Homo sapiens: one gene and its partners. The protein of the gene in region 3 interacts with the protein of the main gene of each other region in a biochemical or structural test. Each region holds a gene or a part of one and is shown on either strand. Other genes may lie near its edges.

Region 1 (5,781 bases), on a different chromosome or scaffold from region 3:
TTCTGGCTGACATTTCCTCCCTCTCCTCCCCTTACAATTACAGGATAAATATGCTTTTATTTTAAAGGATACTTATCAGGGCCCCAGCAGGAAGACAGATGGCACATTCAACTCAGGGTAATTAAAAGAAGATTGAATAAAGGGACTGTTTGCCAAGGCATGGGCAGGGTATGAGGAAACTACCAGTGACAGCATGGTACCTCACAGTAATAACAGCACAACTTAGGTTTTTCGACCTCAGTATTGTTGACATTTTAGATTGGAGAATTCTTTGTTTTGGGTGCTGTCCTATGATGTGCACAATGTTTAGCAGCATTCCTGGCCACTATCTACTAATGTACCCCTCTCAGTCATGACAATAAAAAATGTCTGCAGACACTGCCAGATGTCATTTGTGGGGAAAAATCACCCCCGGTTGAGAACCATTGGCATAGCTGTTACCATCCCTATGCCTGAAGGGATGAGGGGAAGGAGTGGTTAACAGAATTCAGGAGAGAGAAATGGAGAGAGGACCACCTTGAGCGAAGCTATGAGCTGCCACAGAGGGGGACAGCAAACCCTAGGTGACCCCACTGGGAGGGAGCCAGGGGAAAAATACCCTGACTTCACTTTTCTCCTTCCCACTAGTCCTCTCCTCGGGTCCCTGCTGGTGACACCCAGCTGGGAGCCAGAAGACATGTGGGCCCTGTGTTTTTTGTAGAGATTGCAGAGTGTAGCTTGTATTTTTGGTAGAGACGGGGTTTTGCCATGTTGCCCAGGCTGGTCTTCAACTCCTGAGCTCAAGCAATCCACCTGCCTCAGCCTCTCAAAATGCTGCGATTACAGGTGTGAGGCACCTTGCCTAGCACTAAGATTCTTTTTTATCTCACCAGAAGCATCTTGTATAAAATAAGAAAAAAGATTTTTTTTTCCTCTCTTTGATTTCTTTTTTGGATCTGATAACTTTCTCAGTAACACAGGACAGTTCCCCACACTTTTTACTCTGGGGGTATTAGCAAGCCTTTATATTCATAGAGCAGCTTACCCTCTCAAGGCACTCCCACATTCTCTCTTGTGTTTCCATCAGTCATCCTATGGGGTAGGACTTCTCCCCACATCACAGGTGGGGAAACTGGGGCTCAGAAAAGTTAAAAGCCTTGTTGAGGATCACAACGGGAATGAGAACCCAGAGCTCCCCAAACCTACACTTTGCTGTAATATAGGTCTTGCTTTGCTTATAGGGACCCAATCAGAAAACTTTCTATCAAAGTCCTGTTCCCCAATTACTCCATAATACTGTACTGCTGGAGGATTGTTGGCCTTGAGGCATCCTTGACTTTGATTATGCCCTACCTGTGATAAACAGGAGGTACTCTCATAGACTGAAGTTTCCCTTGTGATTCTTGTCTTTGTCACAAAAAAACCTATCTGTTTGTAAGGACCACTCGGCTCACAGCATCTGCCTTCAAAGCCAGAGTCATTTACTTGTACTAACCTTTGGAAGAGTTTCCCTTCCCTCCATTCCCGTATTCAAAATGGCCCCAGCCCCTTTCAACTTGCTATGTTCCTTTTTTCTCTCTTTTTTTTTTTTTGAGACAGAGTTTCACCCTGCTGCCCAGGCTAGAATGCAATGGCATGGTCTCGGCTCACTGCAGCTTCTGCCTTCTGGGTTCAAGTGATTCTTCTGCCTCAGCCTCCCAAGTAGCTGGGATTACAGGCGTGTACCACCACGCCCAGCTAATATTTTTGTATTTTTAGTAGAGACGGGGTTTCACCATGTTGGCCAGGCTGGTCTCGAACTCCTGACCTCAGGTGATCCGCCCGCCTAGGCCTCCCAAAGTGCTGGGATTGGGATTACAGGTGTGAGCCACCGTGCCTGGCCTGCTATGTTCCTTTTTTTTTTTTTGATGGAGTCTAGCCCCGTTGCCAGGTTGGGGTGCAGTGTTATGATCTCGGCTCACTGCAACCTCCACCTCCCAGTTTCAAGCAATTCTCCTGCCTCAGTCTCCCGAGTAGCTGGGATTACAGGCACGTACCGCCACACCCAGCTAATTTTTGTATTTTTAATAGAGATGGGGTTTTACCGTGTTGGCCAGGATGGGCTTGATCTCCGACCTCGTGATCTGCCCACCTCGGCCTCCCAAAGTGCTGGGATTACAGGCGTGAGTCACCGCGCCCGGCTGCTATGTTCCTTTCTTATTCACTGTCTCTGAGATGCAGGGCACCAAGACTGAATCATTGAGGGCTGGGAGGGACAGCGACACTGTTTCTTGCCACAGTGACTTCATTCCAGAAAGGATAATGCATAAGGGGTGGGAGTTAGTTCATTCACCCAGAAGACCTGGGCCACTCTCACAGGTGCTCAATACCTGCTGACCTCCCTCCCTGTGCTGTGTTCTGGGTACTTTGGCAGGACAGAGAGGACTGGGTGGAGGAGCCAACAGTACTGGTGTTGCTCCGGGCAGAGGCATTTGTGTCCATGATCGACAATGGAAAGCAGGTGGGCAGAGCCAGAGGGTGGGAGGACACGGAACAGAGGGCTGACTCTTACTAGGAAGCAAGTATTAATGCAGTTTCTGCCCCTTCATGCAGGGAAGCCTGGACAGCACTATGAAAGGGAAGGAAACGCTTCAGGGCTTTGTAACTGACATCACAGCAAAGACAGCAGGGAAAGCTCTGTCACTGGTGATTGTGGATCAGGAGAAATGCTTCAGGTTTGGATTTGCCCTGGTGATTTCATGTTAAAAGGGGCAGCTCTTGGGCCAAGGGGGGTGAGTTTAGTTTATTCATTGCAGATGTAGGTCACTCTGCAAGGTAGTCCATCTCTAACAAGTCCAGGGGGATGCTCTGGTCCAGTCTTCTTCTGTATCTTCTGCCTGACTTCAGCCTGGAGCTGCTGTTCTTTGATTTCCTCCCCTGCACCAGTGCTCAGAATCCTCCAAGAAGAGGGAAACAGGGAGCAAATAAACAGACCAAGAAGCAGCAGCAGAGACAACCAGAGGCCAGCATAGGGTCCATGGTATCCAGGGTAGACGCTGAAGAGGTAAGAACGTCCTGTTGCCTGAATCGGGCTGGGTACTCACTGGTCACCTGAGACTTGCTATTGATAGAGAATAAAATGCCTGCTGCGTACTGTTTTCTGCCTTGGCACTGACTAAGAGAAGGTACCAAACAGGAAGCCAAGGGGCTGGGGTGTGGCTTTAGTGGACAGTGACTTGGCAGCTAGTCTCTTCCTACCCTTCCAGTCCATCGTTGCTTTTGGGTTTCTAGGCATTGGTGGATCTGCAGCTACACACAGAAGCCCAGGCTCAAATTGTGCAGAGCTGGAAAGAGCTGGCCGACTTCACATGCGCATTCACAAAGGCTGTGGCTGAGGCGCCCTTCAAGTGAGTAACCCCAGCAAGTCCAGCCTCCATGCTGGGCCTGTCCTTTACCATGGCTCTTGCAGTCAAAGCAAATGTCCCTTTCCCCTCATCTCTGCAGTCAGCCCATTGTCTCTCAAGCTTGAGGCAGAAGGAGCTGACCTCACACTGGGGATTCTTGGGAAGAGTCCTCAAGCCTAGCGCCTTTTCAAATATTCTCCTTTCGCCTATATGTAAGTATGTGTTCTGCAGGCTGATATCATAGGCCAGGTTACCATAGGCCAAGTTACCAGGATTAATTACAGGTCAGATCACAATGTAATAAGCACTAGGAAAGCAAATTTTTGGCCTACTCAGTTCAAGAAGTGTTCACTGTCAGAATTTAAAATAAGTAAATGACCTCAGAGACAATCCAGTCCAAGTCCCTTATTTTATACTTGAGGGGACTGAGGCCTGAAGAGATTGACTTGTCTAAGCTCCTAGCAGTTAGAAGAACCAGAAATAGATTGCAGATTGCCAGATATCCAAAGAATCTGGTATCTTTTCTTCTACTATAATGGACTAGATGTAGTTTTTAAATGAATCAGCAACTGGCCCTATACCTGGCAACAAAGTGAGCACTCAAATTGTCAAAGGCACAAAAAGGCCAGATGTAACATGGCGCCCACCTCTTCCAAGGTCAGTGGGGGGGTTTTCAGTTGCCACTTGAGGGGAACAGGTGTAGAAGAGTAATGAGCAACTTACAGCTCTCCAACCACGCTGTTGCAGGAAGCTCCGAGATGAAACTACCTTCTCCTTCTGTCTGGAGAGTGACTGGGCTGGAGGGGTGAAGGTGGACCTTGCTGGCAGGGGACTCGCACTAGTCTGGAGGAGACAGATTCAGCAGCTGAACCGAGTCAGCCTGGAAATGGCCAGTGCAGTTGTGAATGCCTATCCCTCCCCACAGCTCCTGGTACAGGTATGCTGCTCCAGGGCTCAGGGGTCACTGCCCATTGCCTGCGGGCTCAGTGGGCCCCCAGATTTCCATGGACAACTGTTGAGGGCCCACAAAGGCCTCACAGGTCAGCAGTGCAGGTCTACTAAGATCAGTGTTGCTAATGCTGACCCAGGGAGGGAGGACAGGTTCTCATGCCCCAAGCCAAGCGTAGCACCCTCCATGCTCATGGAGAAGGGATCACCATGGATGGTACCATATTAAGAGGTCATCTACCACTTCCAGGCTTATCAGCAGTGTTTTTCGGATAAAGAACGCCAGAATTTGCTCGCAGACATACAGGTGCGCCGTGGGGAAGGTGTGACATCCACTTCTCGCCGCATTGGACCAGAACTATCCAGGCGTATCTACCTTCAGATGACCACTTTACAGCCACATCTCTCTTTAGATAGTGCTGACTGATTCTAGCCCTCAGGGATGAGGATGAAAAGCTGGAAACTTCCACTTCCCCAACCTCAGAGCCTGACTGTAATGAAGAGACTGGCAGCACCTCCTGGAACACAAGCCTAGGTGAGGCCCAGTCTTTCTTGGGTCTTATTATTTGTGAAGGTCTCTCTGCCTGTCGGCTGGGGCAGAGACTGAAATACTGCCACCTACCTTTGGCATTTAATGTTCCTCTCCTGGCAAAAATTCACTGCCACAGACAAACCACCCCCACTCCTACCCAGCCAGCCCTCAAAACACAAAGGAACAAAGACAGTCCACTCAGACACTTATTTAATAACTGTAGAAATCCAAAAGAATTAGCATCAAATCTTGAAGTCGTGAGTGAAGCTGCGGGTTGGCTTGACTGGGCTCAGCCACTGAGCTGCCTCAACCGGCCAAGGAACGGGATTATGATGACTATGCGGACTTCTATATTGTCTTCATCTCATTGTGTGTATTATGTATTTAGTTTCAATAAAGCATTTGTACCAATGGCTCTGGAGCTTGGAGGAAGACTAAAGGAATGTGTAGTGATTCTGAGTAAGATGTAGACCTACGCAGCAGAGCTATGGGGGAGAAGATTAACAAAGTCCTTTCTTCCAATATCAGGATAGTCATGAGTTGCAGTCCCATCCAAAAGGTCATTAGGGCTAAAAGGCCCTCTGTGTCTCTGAACTATGAGATTCTTGCTCCCTCCGGGGGAGCCAAGGAGCTTGCAACTGGGAGTTTGCAGTGAATGAGCACCATGACACAGTCATTTCTGATCCCTCTATCCAGCTGTTGTGAAAAGATGAAGCAAAGGAGGCAAGAAAATGCTTAATTTAGCAGACAAGAGAATGGACAGTGTGATCCTTGTTTGTGCTAGCCATTGGGTGATGCACCACTTTTCAGCTCCATGATGCTACTTGTTTCCCTTCATATCCTGTTTCCATTTATGCCCTTCAGTTATGGTCTAGAATCAAACAATTCTAAACCTCAGTGTCTTATGAAGCTGACACTTCAAAACCTGCAGAAGCAGGT
Region 2 (7,491 bases), about 27 Mb from region 3:
TCCCATGAGGCAGGGGTGACTGTTATTTGCATCTTACAAATGAAGAAACTGAGGTGGACAGTTAAAATCCTTGCCCCTAGGACTAAGCTGGTGCAGGTCCTGGGAGCATCAGCAGTGATTGATTGAGTCACAGCCTCACCACTGCAGCCAGACCTGAACTTCCTCACAGCTCAGCAACACCCAGCAGGTCACTGAATGTCCCCAGGGCAAGTCCTCTACTCACTCACAATTACCGGGAGCTCAGTAGAAGGCACCCATCGTCCATTATTTTATTAAATATTTAGGCCGGGCACGGTGGCTCATGCCTGTAATACCAGCATTTTGGGAGGCTTAGGTGGGCAGGATCACCTGAGGTCAGGAGTTTGAGACCAGCCTGGCCAACATGGTTGAAACCCCATCTCTACTAAAAATACAAAAATTAGCCAGGCGCGGTGGCAGGCGCGTGTAATCCCAGCTACTCTGGAGGCTGAGGAAGGAGAATTGCTTGAAACCAGGAGGCAGAGGTTGCAGTGAGCTGAGATCGCGCCACTACACTCCAGCCTGAGCGACAGAGTAAGACTCTGTCTCAAAAAAAAAATAAATAAATAAATAAAAAGAAAATTTCTGGGCCATCGGCTCAGTGCAGGACTTTGTTCTACAGCAGTGATAAGTGCTGCCCTCTGATAGTGCAGTGTGGCAGTTGGGGTGGGAGAGGCTAATGAGATCAAGAAAACACGTAGCATGCCAGACAATAGTAAGTGTTAAGGGAAAGGGGGTGCAGAAAAGTGCACACAAGAATGAGCTGCAGTTCATTACATTGTTTTAGAGACAGGGTCATGTCCAGGCATGGTGGCTCACGCCTATAATCCCAGCACTCTGGGAGGCCGAGGCGGGCAGATCACTTGAGGTCAGGAGTTTGAGACCAGCCTGCCCAACATGGCGAACCCCATCCCTACTAAAAACACAAACATTCGGCAGGTGTGGTGGCACACTTGGGAGGTTGAGATAGGAGAATCGCTTGAACCCAGGAGGCGGAGCTTCCAGTGAGCTGAGATCACTGCACTCCAGCCTCCGCAACAGAGCAAGACTCTGTCTAAAAAAAAAAAAAGGGCCGGGCGCGGTGGCTCATGCCTGTAATCCCAGCACTTTGGGAGGCTGAGGCGGGCGGATCACGAGGCTAGGACATCGAGACCATCCTGGCTAACACGGTGAAACCCCGTCTCTACTAAAAATACAAAAAATTAACCAGGCGTGGTGGCGGGCGCCTGTAGTCCCAGCTACTCGGGAGGCTGAGGCAGGAGAATGGCGTGAACCCAGGAGGCGGAGCTTGCAGTGAGCAGAGATCGCGCCACTGCACTCTAGCCTGGGCGACAGAGCTAGACTCCATCTCAAAAAAAAAAAAAAAAAAAAGAGGGTCATGCTCTGTCGACCACACTGGAGTGCAGCGGAGTACTGATGGCCTAGGGAAGAACCTTTTCTTTGAAGGGGAAATGGTGAAGGCCCTGAGCAGGGCCTGCTTTGCTCAGGAATGGCCGTAAGTCCTATAGCATCAGCATCTTAGAGATGGGGATAGGGTGGCCAAAGCGTGTCAGTGGGTTTCCCTCAAGAAAGAGCTGGATCCGAAGTCGTCTGGACTCTAGAGCCATCCATTCCTCGGGGGGACCTCACCTGGATGGTCTGGGCGCACAGGGAGCAGCAGGCCCCTGGATCCCCCTGGTCTGGCTCAGGCTCCGCGTCATCAAAGGGACCTGCGCGGCGCCTTGGGGCCGGGGCCTGGGGCGGTGGAGGCCCGAAGGCCAGAGGCACGTGCGGCGGCGGCGGGAGGCAGAGGTCCTGGCGGAGGTCTGGGCGCACCCAGCGCAGCGTGAGCGGGAGGCGAGCCCAGGGCGGTGCGCGCAGCATGTGCGCCAGCACGCGCAGGTGGAAAGCGAAGGCTGTCTCTCCTCGCAGGCGAGGCCCCACGTGCGCCAGGCGGCGCGAGGCGTGCGGGTGCTGCCAAGCCCACTCAAACTGCGGGCGGCGTACAGGGGCATCAGGGCGGCTCGGAGCGAGGGGCGGAACCCAAGCCCTCACCCGGCCGCCGCTGCCCGGTCTCCTTCCTTACCCGAAGGGCGGCCACGGAGGACGGGAAGCCGTGCACGACGAGCACCATCTCCCTGAGGAGGAGAACGGTGATGTCCCTGTCGCAGCCCAGCGCCTCAGCCGCGGGTCCCCTCCAATCCCACCCGAGAGCGGGGTCCTCATTCCCGGCTTCAGCCGAGAAGTGCAGCCCTCTGCACCTGCCCACCTCAGGCCCTGCCTCCAGCCCAGGTACCCACCTGTCCCACCTCCTCTCTCTCCTGCATTCCACCCGACCCCAGCGTGCCCACCAAGAGCCCTATGCTGGAACCCAGCCTGGATCATCACCCCCGCCCCAGCTAGCTCCTTCCCTGAGTTCCGCCGCGGAGATGCCCCGGGCACCGCCTCCCCGTCACGCTCCTCCCCTGCGACAGGCCCCGTCCCCACCACAGACGCCCCGCCTCTGTCACAGTCCTGGCCGGTCCTTCTCAACAGGCCTGTGCCCCGCGGGGTCCGCCTCCTCTGGGACGCCTTCCTCCCGGCACAGAAGGCCTCCCCCTCTCACCAGGGCCCTCGCCCGCTGGTCCGCCAGGCCCCGCCTTTTTTGCGGCCCCCATTGTGCTGCTGGACCCGACGAGCAGTGTTGACAGTGAACCCCACGTAGACGCGGCCCCGGTACCGGGGGTTCAGGCAGTAGAGCAGGTAGACGCCGAAAAAGCGCCCTGGCCTCGCCGCGACCCCCGCGGGACCCATCGGGCCTTGGGGTTCGGGAACCACAGCAGGGGGTTGATTGCCGTGACCTAGGGTCCAGGGGAGGGCTGGATCGCTAGGGCTGCAGGGTGCTTGCTTCGGAACAAGCTCTCGGGGACTATCCGGAGGCAGCCTGCAGGAAGCCGTAGCGCCGGTACGTGCCCCTCTCCTGTCTGGAGGCGGGTGTAGAAGTCCGACCGCGGAAGCCAGACTGCTGTCCAGTCGGCGAGCGCGTACCATTCAGCATCGGCTCCGCCCGAGTCCCACCTTCCTCAGGCTCTGATTGGCTGACACATGGCAAGCGCGAAAAGCCTGGACCGCTGGAAAGCCCGGCTGCTTGAGGGCGGAAGTACTGCGTTGACGTACGCCTTAGTAAGGGCGGAAGTGAGTTTTCCAGCGGAAGTGGCTCCTGTAAGGCAGCAAGGTAGCGTGGCCGGCGCCCGAGCTGGGGTTGTGTCCCTGCTGGGCTGCCGTTCCAGCTGGACTGCCGCCATGGAACTCAGCGCCGAATACCTCCGCGAGAAGCTGCAGCGGGACCTGGAGGCGGAGCATGTGGTGAGTTGAGCCGCCGGACAAGGGGAAAAGAGCTCGGGGGGCGGGTTCGGCACCATTCATATTCTTCCGCTCGGTAGGAGGTGGAGGACACGACCCTCAACCGTTGCTCCTGTAGCTTCCGAGTCCTGGTGGTGTCGGCCAAGTTCGAGGGGAAACCGCTGCTTCAGAGACACAGGTAAGGCCCTGGGAGCACCTTGCCTAGCTCCTGTACCACAACCCCAGCCACTCCCCCTACCCCTGCAACCTGACTCCCGCACTCCCCCTGGCGTGGCTCAGGGACCTTGAGGATCCCGCCTTCGTGACCCCTGCTTCGAGTATTTCGATGTAGACCCTCTCTCCAAGTACGTGTTCCCACGGCCTGGGGACTACAACCTTGGGGACACCAGTCTCTTGGGTCACCCTAGCCTCGGGGTGTGCGATCACCGCTGGCCTTTTCCTAACCCCATCTCTCGCCCCAGGCTGGTGAACGCGTGCCTAGCAGAAGAGCTCCCGCACATCCATGCCTTTGAACAGAAAACCCTGACCCCAGACCAGTGGGCACGTGAGCGACAGAAATGAGGGACTGGGATCTGCACAGCCATTAAATTATAAATCTGGACCAGCTTCTGTGTCGATGTGTGTGTGGGAGGGGTGCTGAGGCCGAGTCTAGGACCTGGCCTCTCCCTGCCCTGCCTCCGTCCATTGTTTTACCTTGGACACGTCTCTGTCCCCATCTAGGCCTCTATCCCTGCTTGTAAAATGAAAGTTCTACCGTAAAAGTCCCTTCCAGGGTCTACCGAGAAAGCCTTCTCTCTGCAACTCCGTTTAGACATCTAGGAGTCTGTACTGCCACCACCTACCCACCTCCTAGAGAGCTCAGGGTTCCTCCTCTCTGCTAGCCTTCAAGATGCAGAGATGAGAAAGTGATCGGGGTTTCAGGGCCCTGACCAGTTGAACAAACCTCTCCCTGACATTACCGCAGTATCAGAGGCACCATATAGAATTCCACATATTCCTTGCAGGTTCCCCCCGGCCTTCTCAGGCCCAAGAGGGAGTGGTGCCCAGGTAGGGGCTCATCAACTCCTGGAATGCTGATGTTTTCAGACCCACTGGAGAAGGTTCCAGTGGCCCCATAGCCCTGGGCTTAATGTGTCTACAGCTGCCCCCGGAGGACCATGGAGGTTTTAAGAATAGTGGGTGTGGGACGGGGATAGGGGTGAGATTAGAGTAGGAATATAAGGCTGACCTGAGTCAGAAAATTGGGGCAGGTGATGCCCCTGTATCAGTCTTCATAACAGGTTAGTAGGGTTGCTAGGACCTTGTTTGTTTTATTTGTTTTTTGTTGTTTGAGACAGGGTCTTGCTCTGTCGCCCAGGCTGGAGTGCCGTGGCGCCATCTCAGCTCATTGCAACCTCTGCCTCCCAGGTTCAAAAGATTCTTGTGCTTCAGCCTCCTGAGTAGCTGGGATTACAGGGGTGCACCACCATGCCCGGCTAATTTTTGTACTTTTAGTAGAGACAGGGTTTCACCATGTTGGCCAGGCCAGTCTCAAACTCCTGGCCTCAAGTGATCTGCCCGCCTTGGTCTCCTAAAGTGCTGGAATTTTAGGCGTGAGCCATTGTACCTGGCCCAGATTGCTAGGACTTTGAACAGAGGTCCCTGAGACCTAGGGAGGGAGCCCAAATAACCTAGTTGGGGCCAGGGCTCGTTGAGAGTGAGAAATTGCAAGTTTCAGCCATCACACACTCTTTTCCTGCGTTTTTTTGTTTGTTTGTTTGTTTGTTTTGAGACAGAGTCTTGGCTCTGTTGCCCAGGCTGGAGTGCAGTAGCATGATCTTGGCTCACTACAACTTCCCCCTCCCGGGTTCAAGCGATTCTCCTGCCTCAGCCTCCCTAGTAGCTGGGATTACAGGCACACGCCACCATGCCCAGCTAATTTTTGGGGGTTTTTTATTGTTTGTTTGTTTGTCTGTTTTTGAGACAGAGTTTCACTCTTGTTGCCCAGGCTGGAGTGCAATGGCACGATCTCGGCTCACCACAACCTCCGCCTCCTGGGTTCAAGCGATTCTCTTGTCTCAGCCTCCCAAGTAGCTGGGATTACAGGTATGTGCTACCACGCCCGGCTAATCTTGTATTTTTAATAGAGACAGGGTTTCTCCATGTTGTTCAGGCTGGTCTTGAACTCCCGACCTCAGGTGATCTACCCGCCTCGGCCTCCAAAAGTGCTGGGATTACAGGCGTGTGCCACTTATGCCCAGCTTTCTTTTTTGTTTTCTTCCCACACCTCTACTGCCCAAGTAGTTTTCTATGGCATACTGAAGAGGTGGGGCCTGGAAATGACGCCATGGGTGGTCCCTGCTTGATATGAACCAAACCTTACTATGGCTAAGACGCCCATCCCAAACAGCCCTGTGTCCTCCCATCTCAGGATCACCTGCTAAGTTGGGTATCAAAACCTATTCCCACACCCACTCCCCACAAGGCCTGACAGACCTGTTCCTGCCAGGTCTCTCACAGAGGTCAGGCCCAGGCAGAACCCACAGGAAGGGCTAGAGAGGCAGAAGCACTCACTACACGGGGGAAGGCTCTGAATTCAAAAGGGGAGACATAAGGCCAGGCACAGCGGCTCATGCCTGTAATCCCAGCACTTTGGGAGGCTGAGGCAGGCAGATGACTTGAGGCCAGGAGTTTGAGACCAGTCTGGCCAACATGGTGAGACCCCACCTCTACTGAAAACACAAAAGTTAGCCGGACGTGGTGGCACATGCCTGTAATCCCAGCTACTTGGGAGTCTGAGGCACGAGAATGGCTTGAACCCAGAAGGCAGAGGTTGCGGTGAGCCGAGATTGTGCCATTGTACTCAATTTGGGCAACAAGAATGAAACTCCATCTCAGAAAAAATTAAATAAATAAAAAAGTGGGGAGACTTGGACTCTGACTTGGGATCTGCCCTTCAGTGAGCTGGGCTCCTGCTCCCGGCCTCAGTTTCTTCTCTGGTAAACTAGGATCAGCCTGTTGCCTTAATTCTGTCTTTTCCTTAGAAGAAGTTCCCCTGTTTCATATATTAAAATATATAATATATAAAACATATATATAAAATATATATAATTTATATTATAATATATAATATAATATAATATAATATAATATATATTATAATATATATTATATATTATACTATATTATTATATAGTATAATATATAACTTATTACTATATAATATAATATATAATTTATTATTATATAATATAATATATATTATATATTAAAATATATAATTAATATATATAATATTTATATATTAAAATATAATATATATAATATTTATATATTAAAATATATTATATATAATATATTTATATATTAAAATATATAATATATATAATATATTTATATATTAAAATATATATGATGTATTTATACATTTAAAAAATATATATATATATATATATATATATTTTTTTTTTTTTTTGAGACGAAGTCTCACTCCTGTCCCCCAGGCTGGAGTACAATGGCATGATCTCGGCTCACTGCAACCTTTGCCTCCCGGATTCAAGCAATTCTCTTGCCTCAGCCTCCTGAGTAGCTGAGATTACAGGCGCCTGCCACCATGCCCAGCTAATTTTTGTATTTTTAGTAGAGATGGGGTTTCACCATGTTGGCCAGGCTGGTCTCGAACTTCTGACCTCAGGTGATTCACCCACCTCGGCCTCCTAAAGTGCTGGGATTACAGGCGTGAGCTGCCACACCCGGCCTATTTATATTTTTTAGAGACAGTGTCTTGCTCTGTCACCCAGGCTGCAGTGCAGTGGTGCAATGGCTCATTGCAGCCTCGACCTCCTGGGCTCAAGGGATCCTCCTGCCTCAGCCTCCTGAGTAGCTGGAACTATAGGTGCCCACCACCATGCCTGGCTAATTTTTTATTTTATTTTTCGTAGAGACGGTATCTCGCCGTGTTGCTCAGGCAGGTCTCAAACTCCTGGGCTCAAATGATCCTGCCGCCTCAGCCTCCCACAGTGCTGGGATTATAGACGTGAGTCCCCATGCCCAGCCTCCCTCGTTATTTTTATCTTTGGACCTGCAGTTTAAAAGATGCCTACCCTGTAAGTGATGGTTGGTTCATTTCCTCACAAGCAACAGTGCCAGCAGAGTCACGTGCAACGTGATGTT
Region 3 (7,026 bases):
AGGAGGAGAGGAAGAGCCGTCACCTCCCCACCTCTGCTCTGCTAACTGGGCAGTGGGAAGCTCCCCGCATGGAGGTGGCGCTAGGGTGGGCCGGGAGCCAGGACCTGCATTCTCCTTTCCTCTCCAAAACGCTTCCCACGATGGCCTCAACCTCTGAGTGACCCTAAGGCCCTGAGTAGCACAGAAGAGCAAAGCACTAGCTTGTTCCTCTGGCTCTTGCCAGTGGGTTCCCTGGCCCCCGTGGAGATGCCAGACATGGGGCTAGATGTGAACTCACAGTGCTGGCAGCTCCCGCACTGAGTGGGACAGGCTGCGGGATACCTGGGCTTTGAGGAGGTGCACCCATCCCCTGTGACGGACAAGCACCCTGAGTCCAAGCAGCTCGGGGACCTGGCCAAGAGGACAGCCGGGTCCAGTCTGTGATGATGTCCCTAGGCTGGCCTTGGCATGAAGTGCTTGGTTGACACTGACATGCAAATGGGAGGAGGTCCACTCTAGGGAAAAGCCAGTTCCCACCCCGGTTCTTCCCCAGACAGCGCACTGACAGGGAGGCCAGGCCAGGCTGCTCAGCTGTGCTCTGGAGCCCAGGACCCGCACAGAGGGGAGGGAGAGCAAGCCCTTGGTGAGCTCCCAACTACTGAGGAACGAGCAGAGCGTGCCTGGATGGGGCAACCGCGCTGAGAAACTGTGGTCCCTCTACACTCCTGGGACCCAGGACAGGGCAGGCTCTGGGGCCTCAACCCCAAGGTGCCCCATGGAGTCACAGACAGAAAAGGCAGAAGTCTCGTGGCAGAGCCCCCAGAGGGGCGCTGAGGTGGCTGTGGGTCCGTGGCTCTGCTCACGGATGTCAGGATGTGGCAGCCTTCTGGAAAGCAGAGGCCTTGAGAGGCCACTGCACTTGCGTTGGGGGCCAGAGGCCAGCGGTGAGCCAACCCCACCACACACATGGCAAGTGGGATGGCCGGGACCAGAGAGCGCGGGCCAGAGCCAGTTCTTACCAAGGTGCGGCCGCCCCTGTCCGGGTGCTTGTCCTGCGATGGCACCACAAACCCAGTCAGAGGAAGGCCGCCGGGCACCACGTCCAACCCTGAGTGGAGGATTCACAGGTTAAAGGAACGTCACAGCCCAGCCACATCCACCACCAAGAAGACAGCGTTGACCACAGGCTGAGCCAGCCCCTGCGGTGCCTCGGAAGGTGCTTGCTATCCGAGGACACCTTCATGCAAAGCAAACCCGCACACCCTGTCTCACCACCACTCCACCAGGGAGGTAAGAGAAGAGCAAAACAGACAGTTCACCCAGAGGATTCACTCGCTGTGGGCAGACAGCTCTGTCTTTGGTTAAAGTGGAAGGAAAATCATGACAGAGTTGTCTACACCACATTGACCTTTGAGAAAAAATGAAAGCGCCCAGAGGCTGCGTGTTCTCCCACCAGGTCAGAGCTGCCGTCGCGGCGGCACAAGAGCCAGTCCATGGCAGCCTCAGCCGCGGGGAGGGGAGGCCCGGGAGGGCAGGGCTGGCCCTAGAGTCCCACCCAGCATCTCACCTGCAGTCCCTTCCGAGCCAGCCAGGCCCCCACTGCCGGGCCACGGGCTGGCGCTCAGTCCCTCCCTCGCCAGGTCCACGAGGTCCTGCAGGGCCTGGTGCTCCCTCTGGCTGGCCGAAGGCGACGGGCCCCTGGAGCCACAGCCTGCAGTGGGGGTGCCGTGGAGAGCGGGTGACCTTCGCTCGCTCAGCTCTGAGTGCTCAGGTGGCACCAGAGGCGGCACGGGCTCCTGCATAAGGCCCTGAAAGAAGCCAGTAAGGAGAGTGACCACGTGGTCACTGTCATTGACGCACACACTGCAGAAGCCATCACATGTGGTATGCACGGCTGGACCTAAAACTACAGAGCAGGATGTGGGCTGTGGGGACAGACTGTCCCCGGGGCTCCAGCCACAGCCTGGAGCAGTCCTGGGATGCTTTTCCCCAGCACTCATGTCAACATGCTCCTCCTCTGTCACGGCCAAGGCCAGGCCTGTGGCATCTGTTTGCACAAAGGCTTGTCAGAGGCCAGGGGGGCCCAGGCCTGCCGCCCTCCTGAAGTCCTCCAAGCTGCCTCAGGCAGCTGCGTACTGACTGTAGGGCTACCTGCCGCACGACTGTCTGGAGTGTGTGCTCCGAATGCCAGTTTCCGGGCTCCATCTGAGGCATTTTGCCAGTTGCCCTGGGACTCTGTTTTTTTTTTTTTTTTCAAGACAGAGTCTCACTTTGTTGCCCAGGCTGGAGTGTAATGGCACGGTCTCGGCTCACTGCAACTTCCGCCTCCCCGGTTCAAGCGATTCTTCTGCCTCAGTCTCCCAAGTAACTGGGATTACAGGTGTGTGCCACCATGCCTGGCTAATTTTTGTATTCTTAGTAGAGATGGGGTTTCACCATATTAGCCAGGCTGGTCTCGAACTCCTGACCTCGTGATCCGCCCACCTCAGCCTCCCAAAGTGCAGGGATTACGGGCGTGAGCCACTGCGCCCGGCCGGGACTCTGCATTTTCAACAAACTCCAGGAACACACTCTGGTGGACACCAAGGGTCCTCCCTGATCCTACCCAGAGTACCATGTAGTTGCTGGACAGAGAAGAAAGCTGCAGCCACCAAGTGCCCCTCTGGCCTCCTCCCGCCTCTGCCTTTCCTTCCTGGACTTTCCATCACCTGGCTGTGGGTACCCAGTGTTGCAGTTCTGGGATTGCCAACCTCCCCCAAAAGCCTATCCATGTGCCTGAGGGGAGGGACTCACCTGGGCAGGCCGCTGGGGCACGAGAGGAGGGACCAGCCTGGCCGTGTAGAAGTCCTCCATGGCCCAGGCCCCAGTCAGTGCGCTGCCCTCCCACAGAAAGCTCTGCTTGCGTTCAGGTGGAGGAGGACACTGGCCCGCTCTTTCCCACCCTTCCTTTAAAATCCTGCTGGCAGGAAGTGGTGGCGTGCTAGACAATTCCACTTCCTCAGAGAGGAGCAGGGCCACACGGTCCTCTATCTGTCGGCCTGTGGTTTCAGAGTCCTGGACTAACAACAATGGGGGGGATACCGGGGGTTTCTTCTTGCGACTTTTATTCTCTAGAGAGAAACAAAAGCGACACCATCAACGGTGGAGTCGGTCCACTCACCCGGGACCTGCTGATGGCCTCTCCCAGGGTCACTCTTCTGATCACACAAACCTGCTTCTGGTCTTATCCTCTCAGAAAAGGCACTTTCCAGCCTGAGCGCTGGTACAGCCGCACCCGGCTCCATCTCCGACCGGGACAGAGCCATGGCCACCAGCAGGTCCTCGGACGGTGCCTCGTCCACCTTCCGCCTCTTCCGTGGCTCCTTCTTGCTGGTGGGTCCTCTCCGTTTCAGACCTCTACTGTGATCACTGAAGCTAGAAAACAGCCAAAGAGAAAAGTTACTGGGGCTAGAGGAGTGCACGCTTCTCAGGTTGGTCACACTGGTCTGGAGAGGGCTGGGCCTGAGAGAAAAGTGACGGATGTGGACCTGCCAGGCAGATGCGTCCCCCACTTCCACTGCCTTGTGTGAACTCATTCAATTCCAGGCCAGAAGTTCAACATGGCCCAGGCACAGGAGGGTCTGGGTTCCTTCACGTGCTGCTGTCCAGCAGGCTCATGGCAGATGTACGGAGCCATCTGTGGTACCTGCACATCCTCATGTGGCCAAGCCCATCCAATGGAGTCAACAATCGATGGCTCTGAGCAGGCTCCCTGGACTCCCACCACCTTCACCCATCAATACTTCCGATGCTCCTTACACGGTCCTGGCCACACCGGCAGAAAAGGATCCCTTCCCTCCTGCAAGGGCTCCACGGCAGTGCCTCTGTCCATGGCCAGAAGGAAGGGCTTCCCAGCTTAGGCTGCCGATGGTCAACATTATACCAGCCGCCCCGGGACTCTGCACTTTCAACGGGCAGCAGCTCGTTTGGTTTGGAGGAAATGAACAGGAGTTTCCGGCTGGAGAGAACCTAGGCTGCCTGGGTGACTCCCAATAAGCTGGGCAAGAAGGAGGAGGGCAGAGGTGACAAAGGAACTTAGCACAAACCGGGCCCACCTTCCCTGCAATGCAGTCATGCCTCTGGCTTTTGCAAAAGCTCATGCTCTCCAGGGTGCCAGGGATGGCTCAAGTTCACCTTCCCAGGAACGTGGATAATCACAGCCTCCCAGAGGGAAAGGAGCTGCCTGGGCAGCCTGGGACCCTGCTTCTGTGAAGGGAACACAGACTGTGTTCCCTCCTCACTCCCCAGCAGGCCAGGTTTGGGCTGTGGGGAAAGAATATGAGGCACTCTGGCCGGGGCATGCGTTCTGATGACCACAGGCTTGGCCTTTGGGGAGGGAGGGGTTCAAAGACCCCATGAGGGCATCCAGCTCCTGTAGTTTTCTACTCTGACAACCTTCTAAACGGATCCACATACATCTAGTTTCAGTACTTGGAGGTATTCTAAAGGCAGACATACTTTATCTGAGCAGGTGCTTTTGGCGTGGTCCTGCCAAGAAAGAAACAATGGCTTAGATGACGTCTATTCTAAGGCCTCAAGGCTTGCACCCCTGCCATGCTAAATACAGATGCGCTCCTCCACCAAGAGAATCCCCTCTGCCCTCTGCCATCTCAGCCCCGAGCCAGCTCAGCTGCCCATGACCTGTGTGCAAAGCAGGGGGCGGGACAAACAGCTATCGCCTTTGGCCTTCCCTTTGCTCCTGACAGCGGTCTCAAACCTGGAGGAGTCAAAGGTCCAAGATGCCTTTGTTCACTATGAACCTGGTGTCAGCTCTAGCGTCCTCAGCAGCAGGGCAGCGTGGAGCAGGGCCAGCCCTCTGGCACTTGTGTGGCTGTGGTTTGCATGCTGAGGACTTGTTTCCTGGCTGTGAGCAAGGCAACTCATTTTAACTTTTAAGCATTAATTCATGCAAGATTTTTAAAAAATAGGGTCCTACACTTCTGTTGCACCAACTTTGTTGTTGTTTTTGTTTGTTTTATGAAGACAGGTTCTTGCCCTGTCGCCCAGGCTGGAGTGCAGTGGTGCAATCACAGCTCATTGCAACCTTGGCCTCCCAGGCTCAAGTGATCCTTCCGCCTCAGCCTCCCACGTAGCTGGGACTACAGGTGTGCAGCACCACAGCCAGCTAATTTTTTAATTTTTTGTAGTGATGGGTCTTGCTATGTAGTCCAGGCTGGCCTTGAACTCCTGGGCTCAAGTGATCCTTCCGCCCTGGCCTCCCAAAGTATTGAGATTACAGGTGTAAGCTACCGTGCCTGGCCAATCACCAAATCTGTGAACTGTGCTGAGTAATCTTATGTTAACAGTGTGAAAACTGGACTGTGCTGAGGTGGAAACCATGCTGTCCAACAACGAAATGGATGGAGTAAAGTGACTACCAAATTCTTAGATGTGGTAAAGCAGTAGTCCCCAACCTTTTTGGTACCAGGAACTGGTTTCATGGAAGACAATTTTTCCATGGGACAGGAGTAGGGGAATGGTTTCAGCATCAAAGCATTCCACCTCAGATCATCAGGCTTTAGATTTTCATAAGGAGAGCTCAACCTAGATTCCATGCATGTGCGGCTCACAACAGGGTTTGTGTTCCTGTGAGTCTAATGCCACCACTGATCTGACAGGAGGCGGAGCTCAGGCAGTAAAGCTTGCCTGCCCGCTGCTCACCTCCTGCTGTGTGGCCAGGTTCCTAACAGGCCACAGACCGGTACTGGTCCGAGGCTGGGGGGTTGGGGACCCCTGCACTAGAGGGTACCGACTGTGGGATCATGGGATTGGAAACTCAGGAAGGACCTTGAGGAAAACAGTGCGAAGATCATTTCTGCACCCCCCTAAAGGGGCAGGTCCAGAGCCTTCCAGAATGCAGATTCTGTCCCCTCCTCACTCCCTTCTAGACTGTGCCCGATTTCCGCCCTAAGTGTTTCATTTCCAGAATCAAAGAGGGCTCTTTTTCCCTCCAACACTATAAAAAGCTTTTTTTTTTTTTTTTTTTTTTTTTTTTTGGAGACAGGATCTCACTCTGTCCAGGCTGGAGTGCAGTGGTACGATCTTGGCTCACTGCAACCTCTACCTTCTGGGTTCAAGTGATTCTCCTGCCTCAGCCTCCCAAGTAGCTGGGACTACAGGCATGTGCCACCATGCTAATTTTTGTATTTTTAGTAGAGACGAGATTGTACCATGTCGGCCAGGCTGGTATCGAACTCCTGATCTAAGGTGATCTGCCCACCTTGGCCTCCCAAAGTGCTGCGATTACAGGTGTGAACTACTGCGTCCAGCCCATAAAAAGCTTTTTTAAATAGAAAAAGCCCTGAGTGCACACAGCATTATTTGGCTTGGTTTTCTTCCTTTTCGTCGACTTACCTGAACATGGGTGGGCTGCTGCTACCCTCAGGCTGTGCTGTCTGCAGCCGCACAGCCTGAAGCAGGAGCTGGGGGCCAACCTCCATCTTCACAGCACACTGCTTCAAGTGACTGGTTCTGCTCTTTAAGGTAAGAAACGGTTTCCCACAAATCGGGCACTCAGGGATCTGAGGCACAGAAGGTCTTAGTGTCTTTTCAGCTTCATCCAAGCACCTGAAGGAAAACAGTCAATACAGGAGAACCACCCTCCCCAGGAATGTGGATTGGAGCAAATGTGGGTCCAGGTCAACACAGACGTGCTGTGGTCAAAGCAAGTTCCCCAAAGCCAATCCCCTCTACACAGCCTGGCTCCGTCTCCCGGCAGTCAGCCCCTAGACACTACACTTAGGTATCTGTCAGCAAAGTTGGCTAAAGAAAGCAAGGAAAGATTAAATGCAGTTACATGATGACTTAGAAATTCCACTCCTAAGTAGAGACCCCAAAGAACTGAAAGCAGGTACCCAAACAAATACATGAAACCCATGTTCACGGCAGCTCTATCCACAATCCCAAAGGGTAGAAATGCTCCAAATGTCCGCCAATGGACGAAAGGATAAACCATGGTCATATTCCTCATCTAAGAATGGGAAAAACACAGTCTAGCCATACAATGAG

What was found.
Region 1: the proteins of SLX4 (region 3) and EME1 form a complex in vitro, tested with the Homo sapiens proteins (3 studies listed by BioGRID, with this or other methods).
Region 2: the proteins of SLX4 (region 3) and SLX1A form a complex in vitro, tested with the Homo sapiens proteins (2 studies listed by BioGRID).

What each region holds. Positions count from the first base shown.
Region 1 is NC_000017.11:50,376,203-50,381,983, forward strand, and holds the end of EME1 (structure-specific endonuclease subunit EME1), read left to right. Parts: intron 1-2,392; coding exon 2,393-2,479; intron 2,480-2,571; coding exon 2,572-2,693; intron 2,694-2,865; coding exon of another isoform or gene 2,866-2,904; coding exon 2,905-3,022; intron 3,023-3,249; coding exon 3,250-3,365; intron 3,366-3,462; coding exon of another isoform or gene 3,463-3,487; exon of another isoform or gene 3,488-4,109; coding exon 4,110-4,299; intron 4,300-4,560; coding exon 4,561-4,737; 3' UTR 4,738-5,281; downstream 5,282-5,781. UniProt on the Homo sapiens protein: Non-catalytic subunit of the structure-specific, heterodimeric DNA endonuclease MUS81-EME1 which is involved in the maintenance of genome stability. In the complex, EME1 is required for DNA cleavage, participating in DNA recognition and bending.
Region 2 is NC_000016.10:30,189,384-30,196,874, reverse strand, and holds the start of SLX1A (structure-specific endonuclease subunit SLX1), read right to left. Parts: upstream 3,001-7,491; 5' UTR 2,791-3,000; coding exon 2,603-2,790; intron 2,443-2,602; exon of another isoform or gene 2,136-2,442; coding exon 2,084-2,135; intron 1,990-2,083; coding exon 1,648-1,989; intron 1-1,647. Other genes in the region: BOLA2B (bolA-like protein 2), read left to right, coding at 3,280-3,342, 3,420-3,517, 3,801-3,900. UniProt on the Homo sapiens protein: Catalytic subunit of the SLX1-SLX4 structure-specific endonuclease that resolves DNA secondary structures generated during DNA repair and recombination.
Region 3 is NC_000016.10:3,594,607-3,601,632, forward strand, and holds part of SLX4 (structure-specific endonuclease subunit SLX4), read right to left. Parts: intron 6,586-7,026; coding exon 6,373-6,585; intron 4,883-6,372; exon of another isoform or gene 3,555-4,882; coding exon of another isoform or gene 3,394-3,554; coding exon 3,191-3,393; intron 3,090-3,190; coding exon 2,773-3,089; intron 1,788-2,772; coding exon 1,547-1,787; intron 1,088-1,546; coding exon 999-1,087; intron 1-998. UniProt on the Homo sapiens protein: Regulatory subunit that interacts with and increases the activity of different structure-specific endonucleases.